Homo sapiens: one gene and its partner. The protein of the gene in region 1 purifies or fractionates together with the protein of each later gene. This does not show direct contact. Each region holds a gene or a part of one and is shown in the gene's direction. Other genes may lie near its edges. The genes, in order: DGKD and SLC6A4.

Region 1 (3,812 bases):
GAAACACAAGAAGTGAGGGAGAAATGTCTCCCTCCCCACCCCACAGTAATAATCAGAGAGGCCATTCAGCTTTGACATGATTAGAACTACAGAGAGGGAGAAATGAGTGTGGGGGTTGACGGTGTTTGTGCAGAGAACAGCCCTTGACCCAGAAGCTGGGAGACCCTTGCTGGAGTCTTCGTCCGCTGAGTCAGGATGGGCTTGAATGAACCAAGCCACGTGGCCCCCTGTGGCCTCGCCCTCCTCATGGCGTCACTGCCACCTTGCGGGGAGCCATGCTGACACCTGAGGGTCCAGCTTTAGTCATTGCTCAGGTTACATGTAGTTGAAAATTTCTAGGAAAACAAAAGCATCAGAACTGAAAGAACTTTTGACTCTGAGGCTCTTCCATGCAGGAGAAAATGGCTCAGGGGCCCCAGGGACATATCCCTGTACAGCACAGGATGGTAACGTCAGATCATTTAAAAATCCCTGTTAGTCCAAAAATCACTGGGAAAAGTATTAAAATACACATACTTTAGCAGGGTAAAATAAGTAGTTGAGGAACAGGGGCATGCATAATACATTTCTAGAGCTTTGGAACCCTGGTCAAACCTCTCTTGAGTTTGTATTGAGAGCTTTGAAAAGTTCTCCTGAGAAAAATTCCACTTGTACAAATGTCATTGGAAATTTCTGCAGAAGTCATTGGAAATGTTGGTTGACGTAGGTACGAAGGGACTCCTAGCGTGTCATTTCCAGAGCTCAGGCATGGGGCGGAGGAGTGTAATCAAGGGGATTGGTTCGATAAGCTGTGGTAGAGCAGTGCCCGGCTGAGGATGGCCACATCTGCAGAGAGCGTGTGGCCACAGAAGGAAGCATTGCCGGCGCAGGGTAAAGTGGACCAAGTAGGTCGTGAAACTGTAAACAAGTTACTGCAACTGGAAATTAATATGCAAAGAAGACTGAGGAAATACATAGCAGCACTTGGCATTTGTCATTAGCACGTGTGGAGGGTGCCTACAGGTGCTGGATTATGCATGGAGGATTATGAGGAGTGTCTTCTCCTTGGTGCTTTTCTATATTTTCCAGTTTTTCTATGGTAAGCATAATTTTTTAGCCAGAAAAAATCAGGATGTGTAGAAGTTTTTTTATAGGGTTCTATAATGTTTTAACTTTATGTATTTACCTTTCAGGGTATGATTACTTTCTTGGCAAAATGTTACTATTGAGCAAAATTTCCTATTGGTAAACGTATCTTTTTATGCATATCTGCAAAAACAAAAATGTGTCCTTCAGATGTTACTGCTGTAAATAATTGCTAAATGTAGCTGATTTGTGGGTCAGATGCTGTTCCCAGCTTTCACAGAAATGACTCTGGTTAACTATACGAAGAAAGCCCAGACCTATGGCAAGTCTTTGCTTCTGTTTCTAGGAGCCGAACCAAGAACATGATGTGGTATGGAGTTCTTGGAACCAAAGAGTTGCTGCACAGAACCTACAAGAACCTGGAGCAAAAGGTCTTGCTGGAGGTGAGTGGGAGGGTCCTTGTCACCTGCAGGCTGGCCTCCATCCATCAGCAGACTGCCAGGCCTATTGCTTCTCCTGTTGACCATTTCCTCCATGCACAGGGACTTGCCTGGGGATGCCCTGGCCACGGCTGTGCTCCTGAGCCCCTGGCGGTGGGAAGCTGGTAGAGAAGGAGGGGCTGACTCATACCTTTCTCTTTTCTTTTGTTCTGTGTCTCTGCTGCTCAGTGTGACGGGCGACCCATCCCACTCCCCAGTCTTCAGGGAATTGCTGTCCTTAACATTCCCAGCTATGCCGGAGGAACCAACTTCTGGGGGGGTACCAAGGAAGATGATGTATGTATGGGGTGTGAGCGGGTGGGCCTGAGCTCAGTGGGGAAGAGCTGTCTGAGAGCAGGGGGGTGTTCTGCTGTGGCTGGGGTGGATCCAGCTCTTCTGTTGTGCCAGCAGTGGGGTTGCCGTGGAGAACAAGATAGACAGGGTCCCCCACCCAGCTCATCGTCTAGAGGGCTGAGCAGAGCAGTTGTGTCAGTGAAGGTGGTCAGTGAGGGTCTGTGGTCAGCAGATGTGGTCAGCGGGTGTGACGTGGAAGGAGGGTCAGGGAAGGTGTCTGGGAGGCCAAGACCTGAAGGATGAGTTGGAGTTGGCTAAGTTAGGTGGGCAGAGGAGAGGGGGAGGCTGTTCCAGGCAGAGAGAATTGCACAGATGAAGGCTCAGAGTCAAGACAGGGCAGGCACATGGAGGATGGGAGAGAGGTGCCCCGACTGCAGTGGGCAGCAGGGGCGTGGAGAGACAGGAGAGGGCTGCAGGGCCTGGGTCACACTGGGCTGTGTGAGCTGGGGAAGAAGTTTGGAATTTGTGTTAAGAACTGTGGGAAGGTGTTGATAGGTTTAAACCTGGTTTAAACCTTCCTTTGTACGTAATAGCGAATAGAAGTATTCAGCGCTTCCTGCACACGTGGTGTGTGCTGGCCCCAGTCCTGGCACTCTGCAGCGTTAACTCACTTGGCCCTACTGATGGCCCTGGAGGAGCGTGCCGTTAGTTTCCCCATTTTACGCATGAGGAAATGGGGGAGAGAGAGATTCAGTAACTTTGCCGAGATGAGAGCTGGGATTTGGTCCCAGGCAGCTGGTTTCAGGGCCTGCAACATGAAGCCCGTCAGGAGTGCAGTTACCTGGTAACTTCTCGCCAGCTAGGAGGGGCTGACCCCCAGAGGGAGGGAGTGAGGGTAGGGGCGGCCTGTGCTCGGGGATGTGTGGAGTGGTGGTCAGCTCTAACGTGTCCCTTGCAGACTTTCGCAGCTCCATCATTCGATGACAAGATTCTGGAGGTGGTCGCCGTGTTCGGCAGCATGCAGATGGCCGTCTCTCGAGTCATCAGGCTACAGCATCATCGGATCGCCCAGGTAGTGGCCATGGTCCTGGGGTGTCTGGCCGAGTCCCCAGCCCGGAGTGTGCTAAATTCTGGGGCAGTGCATGGAGCCTGGGAGGGTGGGCGCTTTCCAGGGCCATGTGGCTGCCTCATGTCCTGTCCTGGACAGCTCGTGGCCCCACTTCCTGGGCCAGAGCCCTTTCCTTGTGCTATGCTTGACAGTTAAATTCTCAAGATAACTCTTTTTAATTTTTTTTTTTTTTTTTGAGACAGAGTCTTGCTCTGTTGCCCAGGCTGGAGTGCAGTGGTGCAATCTCGGCTTGCTGCAACCTCCACCTCCCTGGTTCAAGTGATTCTCCCGCCTCAGCCTTCCGAGTAGCTGGGACTACAAGTGCCCACCACCATTCCCAGCTAATTTTTGTACTTCACCATGTTGGCCAGGCTGGTCTCGAACTCCTGACCTCAAATGATCCACCCACCTTGGCCTCCCAAAGTGTTGGGATTACAGGTGTGAGCCACTGCACCCGGCCAAGATAACTCTTTCAAAATGTGTATCCTGCTTGAACCACAGCCTTGCCTGTCCCCTCTGAGGTGGGATGAGATAGAGCAGACCCAGGCTGGACTCTGCCCGTGTCTGCAGCTGTCAAAGCCGCAGTGGGGACGGAGCCCATGGCTCTGATGTGGGGTGTGGGAGGATTTCCAGCTGGGGCCCTCGATCATGGTTCTGAGGCCGAGTGGTGAAGGGCTGGGGGTGCCCCCATGGCTTATTTCTGACAGCAGCGATGGGCTGAGGGCAGTCTTTCTGTGAGGATGGGGCAGGACTCTGTACCCAGGCACAGGCACTGGGGCGGGGGAGGGTGCTGATGACACCCACTGGCTGAACCCCACCCTGCGACTGTCTGGTGTCTTCCAGCACTCTGTCTACCCTTAGCTGTA
Region 2 (3,812 bases), on another chromosome or scaffold:
GGAAGGGATTTCCATCAGTGGGTGGGAGCTGGGGACCTTCTTCTGGAATCAGTCAGGCCTTAGGCATCCCTGGGAGACTGCTTGAGTAATTAAGGTTTTGACTGCGTAAGTGGTGTGAAATTGTCAAAGAGAAACAGAATAAACGGCAATGAGAAGTAAACTAATGTAAACATTTTAAAGCATTAACAGGACATGTACACATTTTCTAAAACATGTTACCTTGCAAATACATATGAGTGACTAACGGCAGGGCCACTTTTCCCACGGTGGCCTGGAGTCCTTGGAATGGAATGGAGGGCAGCACCCACGTGTACCCCTCTGCTGGGCTGCGGGGCTCTCCAGTGCCCCGTTTCAGCCTTTTGCCGTTGGGCCACCCTTAAACTCGGCCTCTGTCTCTCCATCTCACCCACTGCCCAGGGATTGGTTATGCCATCTGCATCATTGCCTTTTACATTGCTTCCTACTACAACACCATCATGGCCTGGGCGCTATACTACCTCATCTCCTCCTTCACGGACCAGCTGCCCTGGACCAGCTGCAAGAACTCCTGGAACACTGGCAACTGCACCAATTACTTCTCCGAGGACAACATCACCTGGACCCTCCATTCCACGTCCCCTGCTGAAGAATTTTACACGTAAGTGCACGTAAGTGAGGGGTTGGCCTGTTAGGGGCAGGCCACACCCCTGGGGTTTGGCTTCTTAAAAAGAAGGCCAGGGCCAAGGGCTCCTCACCCCTTTCTGAGAGATGAAGCTATCAGGGGTGGGAGTAGCAGAATTTGGAGCTGGGAAACTCTACCTCAAGTGCTCCACGGCCTGGCCCTGCTGTGCCTCCTTGCACTTTCTCATGCGCCAAGTCAGTTTGCTCCAATGCGCCCAAGCCCGTCCCTCCCTTCACATTCCAAAATTACTCCCCTTCTTCCGGGGTCCTCCTCTCAGCCAAATGTCATGGAGGCGAAGCATCCTAGTACTTTGATAGTTCAAAACTATTCAAATGGTTTAATGTGTCAACTTCGTAAGTGGGATCTACCCTTTGGAAGAAGATGCTTGAGGAAGGTAGTTTTCTTTAATGCTGGAATTTCAGGCAATGGCAGCCCAAAGAGAGAGCTACTTTGGGGTAGGGAAGGGAGCCAACTCCCCACACTTACACATCCCTCATGTTCCCAAAAGCCAGTCACATTGGTCAAAGGAGTTCAGGTCCCATCCAGCAAAGGAGAATCCAGGAAGTCTGCCTTTAGGTTGAACACTCTTCCCAGGGTGTTGGCCAAATGTGCTTTGTGGTCCTTCAGGACAGGCAGGGCCAATCCCAGCTCTTCCTGGGCCTCAGTGACCACTTGGTCCTAGCAGCACCGTGTCCATTTGTCCCGGGCACCCTCAAAGGAGCAGCACAGATGTGTGCCCAGGTCACTCTACAGAGCCTCTCAGGGGCCTTTCTTTCTCCTTCACCCCAGGCGCCACGTCCTGCAGATCCACCGGTCTAAGGGGCTCCAGGACCTGGGGGGCATCAGCTGGCAGCTGGCCCTCTGCATCATGCTGATCTTCACTGTTATCTACTTCAGCATCTGGAAAGGCGTCAAGACCTCTGGCAAGGTGAGGAAGGCTCTGGCTGCTGACCCAGGCCTGCCCAGGGGCCCACAGGCTCTCAAACTCAAAACCCAGTAGCCTGGACAGACAGCACTGTTTCCTTCCACACCAAACACATTCCATGATGCACCCTCTCTCTCTTCACCGCATTTGTTAGAAAATTCTAGAAGTGGGTTGGGCATGGTGGCTCACGTCTCTAATCCCAGCACTTTGGGAGGCTGAGGTGGGTGGATCATTTGAGGCCAGGAGTTCAAGACCAGCCTGGCCAACACATCGAAACCTCATCTCTACTTAAACAAACAAACAAACAAACAAACAAACAAACAAAAAAAAACAATAGCCAGGTGTGGTGGCAGGTGCCTGTAATCCCAGCTACTCGGGAGGCTGAGGCAAGAGAATCACTTGAACCTGGGAGGTGGAGATTTCTGTGAGCCAAGATCATGCCATTACACTCCTGGGCAGCAGAGTGAAATTCTGTCTCACTAAAAAAAAAAAGGAAAAGAAAAAAGAATATTTTCTAGAAATGGGCCAATGCCAAGAACCATTACATGATTTTTTTTTTTCAAGATTCCTTCAACCCACTGGTAGTACCACAATTAATAATCGTGGCAATGACTTACTGGAAACCCATCATGGACCATGTTCAGTGCTTTTTATACACTGGCCAGTGCTATTGTTTCCTGCTAGATACTCCCTCAACCTTACAGATGCATAGTGGGCTCAGAGGTAGTTCTCCTGGCCAACCTGAATCCGATCCCTGTGTGACTCCAAGGGTTGTGATCTTTCTGCCACACCACCTCGCCCTCCTTTCTCAAGGTCTTCAAGAATAAAAGACACTGACATCCATTCACCCACCTCCCTCCCCTCCCCTCCCCTCCCCCGCTCCCTTCTCCTTCTCCCCTCCCCTCCCCTCCCCTCCCTGGAACAGCATGGTGATAACCCTTCTTCCTTACAGGTGGTGTGGGTGACAGCCACCTTCCCTTATATCATCCTTTCTGTCCTGCTGGTGAGGGGTGCCACCCTCCCTGGAGCCTGGAGGGGTGTTCTCTTCTACTTGAAACCCAATTGGCAGAAACTCCTGGAGACAGGGGTAAGATGATGAGGGAAATATGTGTACCTGTCTGTCATTTTACTAAACGAAGCTGGTCCTCCTCCAAATAGGACAGTAGGGACAACTGAAATGTGGCTTCAGTGTGCAAGTCTGCAATGATACTTTAACCAAGAAATACAAGCATTAAAGTACAGTTGAGGCCACTGGATGGGTTTATGCCTGAATCATAGGAAGAGAAATCACATTTGTTGGCACTTGGTTTATGGCTATGCCTGGAATGAGCCTTAAAAGCTGTTTTTCTGCCTCTGCACTTAGCCACATGGAGGCAGGAGTGGCGACCCTGTTGGTGCCAGGGTAAGCCTGTGTCTCCCCCTCACCCCATGCCCTTACCCCTGCTGTGTTCCAGGTGTGGATAGATGCAGCCGCTCAGATCTTCTTCTCTCTTGGTCCGGGCTTTGGGGTCCTGCTGGCTTTTGCTAGCTACAACAAGTTCAACAACAACTGCTACCAGTGAGTATCTGGGGTCCCCAAGCAAAGCTTGAAAGTGGCGTGAGTGAAAGTCAGCTAGTGTGGAGGAAGGTGATTGGACCGACGGCCTCGAATCTGGCCAGGCTTAGGCCTTGATACCACTGCCCCTCAGGGGTGCTGCAGGCCCCTGACCAGCTCACCCATGGCCAGAGCACTCATCCAGGCCGTGGCTTCACCTGGGCCACTCAGGCTGAGAGGGGCCCCATGCCCTTCGGTTTTGTCAGCGCTCCTGTATATAAAAATAATAAGAGGCTGGACATGGTGGCTCACGCCTGTAATCCCAGCACTTTGGGAGGCCAAGGCAGGTGGATCACCTGAGGTCAGGAGTTCCAGGCTAACCTGGCCAACATGGCGAAACCCTGTCTGTACTAAAAATACAAAGATTAGCCAGGCATGGTGTTGCACACCTGTAAGCACAGCCACTTGGGAGGCTGAGGCACGAGAAGTTGCAGTGAGCTGAGATCTTGCCACTACACTCCAGCCTGAGTGACAGAGCAAGATTCCAGAAAGAAAGAAAGAGAGAGAGAGAAAGAGAGAGAGAGAAATAAAGAAAGAAAGAAAGAAAGAAAAAAGAAAGAAAGAAAGAAAGAAAGGAAGGAAGGAAAGAAAAAGAAAGAAAGAAGAAAGAAGGAAGGAAAGAAAGAAAGAAA

What was found.
Region 2: the proteins of DGKD (region 1) and SLC6A4 purify together in Homo sapiens (affinity purification with western blotting, with the first as the bait; one study listed by BioGRID). This does not show direct contact.

The regions. Positions count from the first base shown.
Region 1 is NC_000002.12:233,455,488-233,459,299, forward strand, and holds part of DGKD (diacylglycerol kinase delta), read left to right. Parts: intron 1-1,411; coding exon 1,412-1,508; intron 1,509-1,733; coding exon 1,734-1,841; intron 1,842-2,796; coding exon 2,797-2,910; intron 2,911-3,812.
Region 2 is NC_000017.11:30,214,943-30,218,754, reverse strand, and holds part of SLC6A4 (sodium-dependent serotonin transporter), read left to right. Parts: intron 1-417; coding exon 418-637; intron 638-1,450; coding exon 1,451-1,589; intron 1,590-2,538; coding exon 2,539-2,673; intron 2,674-3,040; coding exon 3,041-3,144; intron 3,145-3,812.